Homo sapiens: one gene and its partners. The protein of the gene in region 2 purifies or fractionates together with the protein of the main gene of each other region. This does not show direct contact. Each region holds a gene or a part of one and is shown on either strand. Other genes may lie near its edges.

Region 1 (4,114 bases), on a different chromosome or scaffold from region 2:
TTCTCTCTCTTTTCATCCTTTCTGTTTCTCCTTTCCTTTCCTTTCTTTTTCTTTTTGAGATGGAGTTTCACTCTTCTCACTGCAACCTCCGCCTCCCGGGTTTAAGCGATTCTCCTGCCTTAGCCTCCAGAGTAGCCAGGATTACGGGAGCCTGCCACCACGCCCGGCTAATTTTCGTATTTGTAGTAGAGACGGGGTTTCGCCATGTTGATTCACGCGCCTCGGCCTCCCAAAGTGCTGGGATTACAGGCATGAGCCACCGCACCTGGCCGGAAATACTTATTTCTTTTTCAGGCTCTGATATTTGGCCCCAGAAGTCGTGTGTGTGTGTGTGTGTGTGTGTGTGTGTGACTATGTGTTGAGGTTGGTAGGGACAGGGTCTTTGAGGTGGGCCATGAAGGCTGTTGTCTTGGTTCCCTTACTCCAGTGGGTGGGGGAGGTGGGCAACGTGGATCAAAACGAATCCAGGCCAAGCTGGAGGCCTAGGGAGCCTGCGCGCTGAACCTCAAACGTCTGGAGTCCTTTGCCTTCTGAATCCTTTGACCAAGAGAGGCTGATAACATGCAACCACGCACTACGGCTCTGGTTGCAGCCAGACTTGGGTTTAGTTCTATTGTTTACCAGCTGCGTGACATTGGGTAAGAGGCTTAACCTCTTCGGTCCCAAATTCCTCCTTATTAAGATGGGGACAACAACAGAACCCATCTCCCAGGACTGATACCAAGCATTTGGCCACAGTTGCTGCTAGGTGAGGGACAGTCCTGTTTAATACACAACGGAATGTTGATGATCATGTATTGACCACTTTCTGAGCCAGACAATTTGTGTGCCTTTATCTCATTGGAACACCACCATTTCTCTGGATAGCAGATACTATTACCATATTATAAGGTATATAGGCACTTAGCACTAATGGCACAGAGTAAGTGCTCACCAAAAGCTGTTAGTGAGGGCACTTTTGTCATATAGAAGAAAAAAGGAGCATGGAAAAGGCGCTTTGCAAGGTGTAAGGTTCCGCACAAGTTTTTGCTGTAATTGTTACGTCGCCCTTTGTGGTCGTGATCCTTTATTTATTCTTTCTGAGCCACTACGATGGTCCCCTAGTTACCGTGGCCATGGAAACGCGGCCCGCCGTCCCGGATTGGACGGTTCGCGGGTTCCCCCTGGAGGCCACCTTCTGGTCCTGCTGCGGAACGACGGGCGGGCCTTGGAGGCGGGGAGAGGAGCGTCGGGAGTTGTAGGCGATGGGCGTGGCTGCTGCGGAGCGGTGCACGCCGGGAGTTGCAGTTCCCGGGCGAGGCAGTTGACTGCCCCACAACGAGCTCGGGCCTCACCCGGATGGCGGCTGCGACGCGCGGCTGCCGGCCCTGGGGCTCGCTCCTCGGGCTGCTCGGGCTGGTCTCGGCCGCGGCCGCCGCCTGGGACCTGGCTTCCCTGCGCTGCACCTTGGGCGCCTTTTGCGAATGCGACTTCCGGCCCGACTTGCCGGGTGAGGCGCCAGGGAGCCCGGAGCGAGGGGCGGGCGGACGCGGGCAGACGCGGGAGCGCTGGGAGCCCTGGGAGCCCGGCTGGCGCCGGCCAGAGAAGCTGAGGACCCAGAGGGTGGGACCGAGGGGCGGGGCCCGCAGACTTGGGAGGGTGGAGGGTACCCGTTGAGGTCCAGGAGGCCCTGCCAACCTGGAGAGAGGCCTCAGCCAGCAGAACCCTTGGTGGAAGTTCTTGGGCCTCCCCGGAATGGCCTGGCCGTCAAAGGAGAAGTGCAGTGCGCCTTGGGGATGGGCGGGGTCTGCGGCTGACCCCGTTGACAGCTCGCATTTAGAGCTGAGTGCAATCTAGAGGACCGCCTGGTGGGGGCGCTGCCGAGCTGAATCAGGCCCGAAGGTGGCTCTTTTCCGCCACAGACCCCAAGGTTTGCGTGCCATGTGCATAGGCAGCTTGGACAAACGTAAGGACACAGGAGTCCCAGACCAGGTTCCAGACATGATGTTCTCCTTGAACCTCTGCCTCGGTGGGATGTGTCCTCACCATCCTCCTGTGGCCCTAGGTCTGGAGTGTGACCTGGCTCAGCACCTGGCCGGCCAGCATCTGGCCAAGGCGCTGGTGGTGAAGGCGCTGAAGGCCTTTGTGCGGGACCCAGCCCCCACCAAGCCGCTGGTCCTCTCCCTGCACGGCTGGACCGGCACCGGCAAATCCTATGTCAGCTCCCTGCTGGCGCACTACCTCTTCCAGGGCGGCCTCCGCAGCCCCCGCGTGCACCACTTTTCTCCCGTCCTCCACTTCCCCCACCCCAGCCACATCGAGCGCTACAAGGTAGGCTGGATGCGTCCTTGACCACTGTTCTCACCATGGGGTGCCACCCTAGGGAGTAAGTCCTGAGCCCAGACAGGGGAGTCACCTGCTCCAGGCCACACACGGCTGCAGCCCCAGCCCTCAGGACCCATCCTGCACAGAACTTGGGAAGGTGTCATTCTACCTGGCAGGGAGTACTTTGATTCCTTGGGGCAGTAAGGAACCCTGGCAGTACCTACATGCCAGGGTTGTTGTGAGGGACATGAGATTATACCATTGCAGATATCATTTATGGAGCACCTATGTTTGTCAGATAATCTGCACTGTTGTCTTGCTGGAAATCAGCCCCAATTTGTGGCTCAGAGGAAGCATCAGGAAATATTGGCTCTTACTACTACTGTTGTTGATTGCAGGGTACCCACCAGGCTGATCAGTTTCAGCCGTCAACACTGCTGTGTAGTTTCAGGGAGCAGGAAGGAGCCTTCCCCTTTTATAGAAAGCAGCAAGTGTCGTGGAAGGAGCTCTGAACAGGGAAGTGGGAGGCTTGGGTTTGAGTCCCTGTTCTGACTGGCTGTGTGACTTTGGGCAAGTCTCTGCCCCAATCTGGGATACAGTTTCACCATCAGTCTCACTAAGAGGTTGGTGCTCTCTGGAAGACCACATCCTTCCCTAGAAAGGAGATTAGTTTTGGTTTGGGAAGAGGTCTGGTGTTGGGGGAGTTTCTCCAGCTCCCCTGGAACTCCTGTCTCTCCCCTACAGAAGGATCTGAAGAGCTGGGTCCAAGGGAACCTCACTGCCTGTGGCCGCTCCCTCTTCCTCTTCGATGAGATGGACAAGATGCCCCCAGGCCTGATGGAAGTCCTGCGGCCTTTCCTGGGCTCCTCCTGGGTGGTATACGGGACCAATTACCGCAAAGCCATCTTCATCTTCATCAGGTGGGGCCCGGCTTTGCAGTGGGCACAGTGGGGGGGCCACTTCTCAGAGGTTCAGCTCTACAGCCTTAGCCTGTGCTCCCAGCAGAATCCAGTTCCCCATGGGCTTAGCTGGGCTTTCCCAGTGCCCTCCGCCACTCTCAGAGATGACATTGTCATTCCGCCTGGTTGATTTCCCTTTGGACATTCTCAGCAAATTCTGGGCTCAGTCTTTTTGATCGCCACTTCTTTGTGGAAGCCCTGCCAGGTCAAGAAGTTTTCCCTCTTTTGTGGTGAGGAGGACACAGGCCTGGGAAAAATAGGAACAGAGTTCTTGTCCTTTAGTCCCAGCTCTCAGAATCCTCGCTGTGTTTCCTCAGGCAGCATGGCTCCGCCTCTCTGAGCCTCTGTCTCTGCTTCTGAACAGCGGGGCCAATAATGATGCCCCGATGCCTTCCTGGAAGTTCAGTGAGGGAAAGTCAGTTGAGGGACACAAAAGTGTTTTGTAAACTATAAAGTACGTGGCATGTGTAGGTGAATTACAGGGGCCATGGATGTGGACACCATGGAGGGGGAAGTGGAGCGTTTTCAGTGGAGTTGGCTCCTCCCCGCACTGAGCCATGTTCCTATGTCAGGTGGCAGCGGGGAAGCGAGGGTCCAATCCTGCCCTGCGCTAGTCCTCATCTGAGTCTCAGCCTGGGTCCCCCATGGTTTTAGCAACACGGGTGGCAAGCAGATCAACCAGGTGGCATTGGAGGCGTGGCGCAGCCGGCGGGACCGCGAGGAGATCCTCCTGCAGGAGCTGGAGCCGGTCATCTCCCGCGCGGTGCTGGACAACCCGCACCGTGAGTCTGGCTCAGCAGCCCCCTCCCGGGCAGCTTCACCCCACACCCAGGGGCCAGGCTCTCCCGGGG
Region 2 (3,718 bases):
GCATCCTTATAGCTTAGCTCCCACATAACAGAACATACCATGTTTGGTTTTCAACTCCTGAGATACTTTGCTTAGAATAATAGTCTCTAGTCTCATCCAGGTTACTGCAAATGCTGTTAATTCATTTTTTATGGCTGTGTAGTATTCCATTGTATATATATACCACAGTTTCTTTATCCATTCATTGATTGATGAGGATTTGGGTTGGTTCCATGATTTTGCTATTGTGAAATGTGCCACTATGAACATGCGTGTGCAAGTATATTTTTCGAATAATGACTTCTTTTCCTCTGGGTAGATACCCAATTGTGGGATTGCTGGATCAAATGGTAATCCTACTTTTAGTTCTTTAAGGAATCTCCACAGTGTTTTCCATAGTGGCTTTTCTAGTTTACATTCCCACCAGCAATGTAGAAGTGTTCCCTGTTCACCACGTCCATGCCAACATCTACTGTTTCTTGATTTTTTGATCATGGCCATTCTTGCAGGAGTAAGGTGGTATCGCATTGTGGTTTTGATTTGCATTTCCCTGATCATTAGTGATGTTGAGGATTTTTTCATATGTTTGTTGGCCATTTGTATACCTTCTTTTGAGAATTGTTTATTCATATCCTTAGTCCACTTTTTGATGGGATTGTTTGTTTTGTACTGATTTGTTTGGGTTTGTTGTAGACTCTAGATATTAGTCCTTTGTCAGACGTATAGATTGTGAAGATTTTTTCTCACTCTATGTGTTGTCTGTTTACTCTGCTGACTGTTCTTTTTGCCGTGTAAAAACTATTTAATTTAATTAGGTCCCTGATATTTATCTTTGTTTTTATTGCATTTGCTTTTGAGTTCTTGGTCATGAAATCCTTGCCTAATCTAATGTCTAGAAGGGTTTTTCCAATGTTATGTTTTATAATTTTTATAGTTTCCGATCTTAGGTTTAAGTCCTTAATCCATCTTGAGTTGATTTTTGTATAAGATGAGAGATGAGGATCCAGTTTCATTCTCCTACATATGGCTAGCCAATTATCCCAGTACCATTTGTAGAAAAGGGTGTCCTTTCCCCACTTTATGTTTTTGTTTGCTTTGCTGAAGATCAGTTGGCTGTAAGTATTTGGGTTTATTTCTGGGTTCTCTATTCTGTTCCATTGGTCTATGTGCCTATTTTTAAACCAGTAACATGCTGTTTTGGTGACTATGGCCTTATAGTGTAGTTTGAAATCAGGTAATGTTATGCCTCCAGATTTGTTCTTTTTGCTTAGCCTTGTTTTGGCTACGCAGGCTCTTTTTTGTTCCACATGAATTTTAGAATTTTTTTTAATTCTGTGAAGAATTATGGTGGTATTTTGATAAGGATTGCACTGAATTTGTAGATTGCTTTTGGCAGTATGGTCATTTTCACAATATTGATTCTACTTATCCATGAGCGTGGGATTTGTTTCCATTTGTTTGTGCCATCTATGATTTCTTTCATCAGTGTCAGGTGTATTTTTTATGGCTTGGTAATTTCCAATAAAATTTCAAGGCTGTTTAAGAATGCTACCAAGAAAAAGAATAGGGGAAATGTCTTTCCCATTTTGGCTGTAGAAAATGAGTACATTTTCACAAGAAAATGTGGTAGATAATTGCTGAGTTACATAGATTCATGAAAGCATCAGCTCCTCTTTTTGCAGGGTAAATTTGTGACAGTGAATATCTCTGTTCAAATCCTGTTATCTTGATTTCCTAGTTTTAAGCTAAATTTTATTTGAAACTTGGTACCTCCTAGACATGTTTCCATATGACTAATTGTTTACTATATGACTTTTAATGGAAATAATAAAATAATGCATTTATTGTTTGAAAGGAATGGACACTTTTGCTTTTCTTATTGAGATATGAAATATAAGCACCCTAAAATTTTCTTCTCTTATGTCAACACTGTGTTTGAGAAACTGCTGGATTTTTTTTTTATTTTTTGAAATGGAATTTCTCTCTTATTGCCCAGGCTGGAGTGCAATGTCATGATCTCGGCTTACTGCAGCTTCCGCCTCCTGGGTTCAAACTATTCTCCTGCCTCAGTCTCTTGAGTAGCTGGGATTACAGGCATGCACCACCACACCTGGTTAATTTTGTATTTTTAGTAGAGACGGGGTTTCTGCATGTTGGTCAGGCTGGTCTCAAACTCCTGACCTCAGGTGATCTGCCCGCCTCGGCCTCCCAAAGTGCTGGGATTACAGGCGTAAGCCACTGCGCCCAGCCAAGAAACGCTGGATTTTTTAAACACTTAAGTTTATTTTTTTTTGAGACGGAGTCTTGCTCTGTAGCCAGGCTGGAGTGCAGTGGCGCGATCTCAGCTCACTGCAAGGTCCACCTCCCGGGTTCACACCATTCTCCTGCCTCAGCCTACCCAGTAGCAGGGACTACAAGTGCCCGCCACCACGCCCGACTAATTTTTTTTTTTGTATTTTTAGTAGAGACAACGTTTCACCATGTTAGCCAGGATGGTCTTGATCTCCTGACCTTGTGATCCACCCGCCTCAGCCTCCCAAAGTGTTGGGATTACAGGCGTGAGCCACTGCGCCCGGCTAAACACTTAAGTTTCAAAGACCAAGTGAATAACTCTTGACATGGAAATTAAAGCTTTAGCCCACTGGCTCAGAGCTAAGGCTAATATTGAGCCTGCAAAAAAATTTTATTAAAGGCCCAGTTAGTTTTTTCTGGGGAGTCTCCTCTGTAGATATCCCAGCCTGCTCACCCCAGCCATAGAAGTCTTTATCCTGGGAGAAGCTACAGAGCCCTGGAAAGCTGGGGACCCACAGGTGGATGCAGTTGATGTTAAAATGAAAGGGGATTGGGAGGGTCTTACTGAAGATGAAGTTGTTCTTGTTTTGAGGCAGTTTATAGACTTTGAAAATAAAACAAGGTTGAATTTACATAAAAATTTTGACTTCCAAAGAAATATTGCAACAGAAGTACCAACTACAAGGTCTTTAAGAATTGCAAAGTTCAGGCAGACAAAGGCTTCCTTTCCTAAGGAGGAACAAACAAGATTAGAAAGGAGGTGGAAGGGGAATGGCAAATGCAGGGTGAAAAAATCAGATTTTAGATCAGAGAATGTTTCACACTGAAGTCAGCCTGTTCTTTGGAGTTACATAAAATGGGTTTGTAAAGTTCAGAAGCCTTGGGGAAAAAGACAAACTTAAGTAAAGTTTCCTTAAGAAGTATTTTATTTTCACCACTGAAGTCAAATTCAACTGATTTTTCAATAAGAAAAAAAATGTGCAGAGTCGGTGTCTGCTATGTGATAGATAAGAAAAGAGAGCACCATCTAAGTCATAATGGGAAGGGTGTTTCTTTCGATAAACTGTTCCTGGAGAACACAAACAATGAAGAATTTTATTAATCACAGTTATTTATCTGGATTGTCTATGTGTGTCATCTTTCCCCACCTTTCTTTGTTCTATACATGTCTGCCATTTGACTTTTCCTGGGTTGTATCTTTTATAATAAACTGGTAAATATAACTACAGTATTTGCTGAGTTCTATGAGTAGCTTTATCAAATTATTGAACTTGAAAAAGGTTATGGGAGTCCTCAATTTTTAAACAGTAGCTCAGAAATGTAAATGGGCCCATGGAGTTTGTGCCTGGCATCTGCCGTAAGGACAGTGTGGGACTGAGTCAGGGCCTGTGCTGACACTGGGTGGTGTCAGAAATAAAATGTTAGACAATGAGTTAGTGTTAGAGAA
Region 3 (4,155 bases), on a different chromosome or scaffold from region 2:
GTTTATTTTTGAGATAGGGTCTTGCTCTGTCACCCAGGCTGGAATGCAGTGATACCATCATGGCTCACTGCAGCCTCAACTTCCTGGGCTCAATCAATCCTTCTGCCTCAACCTCCCGAGTAGCTGGGACTAAAGGTGCACCCCCCCATGCCCCACTAACATTTGTATTTTTTTTTTGTAGAGACAAGGTTTTGTCATGTTGCCCAGACTGGTCTTGAAATCCTGGGCTCACTCAAGCAATCCACCCACCTCAGCCTCCCAAAGGGCTGGGATTGTAGGTGTGAGCCACAGTGCCTGGCCCATTTTTAAGTTTTTAGTGGTTTTAATTTTTATTTATTTATTTATTTATTTGAGACAGAGTCTCTGTCACCCAGGCTGGAGTGCAGCTGCACGATCTGGGCTCACTGCAACCTCTGCCTCCTGATTTCAAGCAATTCTTGTGCTTCAGTCTTCTGAGTAGCTGGAATTACAGGCGTGAGCCACCGCGCTTAGCCAAGTTTTTAGTTTTTTAAAGTCCATTTGCCAAAGGAAATCCCTTACATGAAAGAATCTTTGCGGCTGGGCACGGTGGCTCACACCTGTAATCCCAGCACTTTGGGAGGCCAAGGCAGGAGGATCACTTGAAGTCAGGAGTTTGAGACCAGCCTGGCAACATGGTGAAACCCCATCTCTACTCTAAATATGAAAATTAGCTGGATGTGGTGGCAAGCACCTGTAATCCCAGCCACTTGGGAGACTGAGGCATGAGAATCACTTGAGTTTGGAAGGCGGAGGCTGCAGGGAGCTGAGATCACCCCACTGCACTCCAGCCTGGGTGACAGTGAGGCCCTGTCTCAAAAAAAAAAAAGAATCTTTGCACCTGTAGTCTTCACTGCCCATGTTGAGGGCTTTGCATGGGTAGATGTGCGGTCAACTGACTCATGTCCTTTGCTTTAATGATGCTTGGCCGAATGACCAACACCAAGGCTGGCCATTGAAGAAATACTGAGCAACCTGGCCCCCACTGCACCCCAGGCCCACCCAGCAGTGCCAGGTACCAGACAGCCTCAGGACAAAGCTTACTTAAGCTCTTCTTCATCCAGATACCCGCTCTGGTCGTTGTCTATGAACCGGAAAACATCCTTCACCTGACTGGCTGACATCTTGGAGAGGCCTGACGTCTGGAAGAATTTTTGGGGTTCAAAAGTGTCTGGGTCTGAAGAACAGAGAATGGGTTATTCTGACACTCATTGGATCACATTCTATGTTGGGGCCAAGGTACTGAAAACACAGATGATTAAAAACACTTCAACAATATCCCTGAGCTACGGGGATGCTCAACTGGTCTAAGATTTTGGGACAGCCAAGACTTGATGGCTCTGTGATGGCATCCCATGTCCCCTCCGCCCCGGTCTTCCCTCCTCCACTTGGTTTTGTCCATTTTCCTTTTCCCTCCTCCTCTCCTCTGTGCCTCCCCCTCCCCCTGGCCCACTTTACAGGCTGTGTGGCCGAGCCCCCAACATCCCTGGTCTAATTGGTAGGGGGAAATGCAATCACTGGATTTCAACAGGCTAAATGGCCTTTGGCGATTTCTTTCTTTCTTTTTTTTTTTTTTTTGAGACAGAGTCTCACTCTGTCGCCAGGCTGGAGTGCAGTGGCGTGATCTCGGCTCACTGCAACCTCTGCCTCCCAGGTTCAACTGATTCTCCTGCCTCAGCCTCCCGAGTAGCTGGGATTACAGGCATGCACCCCCATGCCCAGCTCATTTTTGTATTTTTAATAGAGACAGGGTTTTGTCAGGCTGGCCAGGTTGGTCTTGAACTCCTGACCTCAAGTGATGCACCGGCCTTGGCCTCCCAAAGTGCTGGGATTACAGGTGTGAGCACCACACCTGGCCCTTCAGTGATTTCTTGCTTTCATGTTTAGTAGGTTTCTTTTGTCTTACAGAAGTGTAATCGTGTGCTCAGATCCCAGATCTCTATAATTTTAGTTATCTAATAAATAGTAGTTTTCTTCTCTGATTCCATGAATTTTCCAGCCAAGCTCTTATTTACTTATTTATTTATTTATTTATTTATTTATTTAGAGACAGAGTCTCACTCTGTCGTCCAGGCTGGAGTGCAGTGTAGCGATCATAGCTCACCACAGCCTCAACCTCCTGGGCTTGAGTGATCCTCCTACCTTAGTTTCCAGAGTAGCTGGGACCACAGGCACATGCCACCATGCCCCGCTAGTTTTTATTTTTATTGTTATGTTGTAGAGATGGAGTCTTGTTATGTTGCCCAGGCTGGTCTCAAACTCCTGGGCTCAAACAGTCCTCTCACCTTGGCCTCCGAAAAGTGTTGGGATTACGGATGTGAGCCACCATGCCTGGTCTACATTTTTTTTTTTTTTGTAGACAGAGTCTACAAAAAAGGCCGGGTTCAAGCAATTCTCAGCCTCAGCCTCCCGAGTAGCTGGGATTACAGGTGCCCACCACCACGCCTGGCTAATTTTTTTGTATTTTTATTAGAGATGGGGTTTCACCATCTTGGCCAGGCTGGTCTCAAACTCCTGACCTCGTGATCCACCCACCTCAGCCTCCCAAAGTGCTAGGATTACAGGCGTGAGCCACTGCGTCTGGCCGCCTGGCCTACATTTTGATTTTGTGTTGCCTCGCTGGAGGGGCAAAGCTGTGAGGAAATCCCACCCCCGCCCCACGTCCCCTCTACCTTGGCATTCCTGGAGCGCTGCTGCAATGTCATCAGCACTGAGCACGTCCGTGATGCTCATTTTCTACCTACTCACACAGAATAAACGAGAGGCGATAAGCCACAAACAGGAACGTGCACATCCAGGGGAAACACATCTTCCCAGGCCCACTGAAACTGTATGTGTGTCTAGATTTTTTTTTTTTTTTTTTTTGAGATGGAGTCTCACTCTGTCACCCAGGCTGGAGTGCAGTGGCACAATCTTGGCTCACTGCAACCTCCACCTCCTGGGCTCAAGTGATTCTCCTGCCTCAGCCTTCCGAGTAGCTGGGATTACAGGTGCGCACTACCAGGCCTGGCTGATTTTTGTGTTTTTAGTAGAGATGGGGTTTTGCCATGTTTGCCAGCCTGGTCTCGAGCTCCTGACCTCATGTGATCTGCCTGCCTTGGCCTCACAAACTGCTGGGATTACAGGCATAAGCCACCAAGCCAGGCCTGTCTAGAATTTTTAAAATGTGATAAGCATGGTTTTGTATTAAGTGACGGGACAGAATATCCAAATTAAAACCAGATACCAAAAAGACCCCAGCCCTTTTTGTCTCAGAGCCTTCTTTTGAATATATGCCAAAAATGAAAAAAAAAAACATGACCCAAAGAAGGATTCAATTGTTTTCTTATAAAAATTATACTGACATAATCAGTCATTTGCATAGGCAGCCGTAAACCATGTTACAAATGCACTGGCATTTTCCTACAGCAGTCCGAGAGATGCACTGTTGCAAATTCCACGTGGGAAAGGATACAGTTTGGGCTGCTTGCAGACATTCTGTGGAAGAAGACATGCTACCTGTCCTGAAAGGTGGGAAGCAGATGGATGAAAAGCCCATCTCCCAGAGATTAAAATCCTTCCAGATGTCAGAGCCATGGGAAAACAGGAGTCTAAGCACCTGAGCCTAATATGAATGCATGCAGTGAAGAAGAGTCTGGGGTCTGATGGGTCCACCAGTTACTCACCGTTTTAGGTTTTCCCCCAGGAAGAATCAGGAAAAAGAGTTGAAGGAGCAAAACAACAGATGTGCTTTTGCTACCTTACTGACCTACCTTATATAGGCTAGAAAAAGTGATAGTTACAACCTCTTAGATTTCCTTTTCAAGGATCAAGTGGATGCAGCTCAAATGTCTTGTCCTACTCAGGAAACCTCTTTTTTTTTTCTATTTATGTCTCAAGGGAATGTGGGTGGGAATAGCCAATTGTAAAAACAACAACAACAACAACAACCTCAACAAACCTTAACTAAGGTTTCAATTCTGCAAACGAACCCTGTTGGCAAAGTGTGGAGAAGGTTCTAGAGCCTGGTAAGCTGGAGATGGTGGCCTGAACTAAGACAAACACATACAGGGTGCTCTGTAAGCTGAAAAGCTCCCCAGATGTTAGCAGGTACCGTTGGAGGCAGGCCTGTTTTCAGCTTTGGGAACTATGGATGTG

What was found.
Region 1: the proteins of ZNF708 (region 2) and TOR2A purify together in Homo sapiens (affinity purification with mass spectrometry, with the first as the bait; one large-scale study listed by BioGRID). This does not show direct contact.
Region 3: the proteins of ZNF708 (region 2) and OCM2 purify together in Homo sapiens (affinity purification with mass spectrometry; one large-scale study listed by BioGRID and IntAct). This does not show direct contact.

What each region holds. Positions count from the first base shown.
Region 1 is NC_000009.12:127,732,495-127,736,608, reverse strand, and holds the start of TOR2A (prosalusin isoform a precursor), read left to right. Parts: upstream 1-1,314; 5' UTR 1,315-1,338; coding exon 1,339-1,489; intron 1,490-2,044; coding exon 2,045-2,310; intron 2,311-3,048; coding exon 3,049-3,224; coding exon of another isoform or gene 3,225-3,393; exon of another isoform or gene 3,394-3,835; coding exon of another isoform or gene 3,836-3,917; coding exon 3,918-4,045; exon of another isoform or gene 4,046-4,114. UniProt on the Homo sapiens protein: Salusins -alpha and -beta may be endocrine and/or paracrine factors able to increase intracellular calcium concentrations and induce cell mitogenesis. Salusins may also be potent hypotensive peptides.
Region 2 is NC_000019.10:21,322,797-21,326,514, reverse strand, and holds part of ZNF708 (zinc finger protein 708), read left to right. Parts: intron 1-3,718. UniProt on the Homo sapiens protein: May be involved in transcriptional regulation.
Region 3 is NC_000007.14:97,987,354-97,991,508, forward strand, and holds the start of OCM2 (oncomodulin-2), read right to left. Parts: upstream 2,844-4,155; 5' UTR 2,752-2,843; coding exon 2,691-2,751; intron 1,196-2,690; coding exon 1,063-1,195; intron 1-1,062.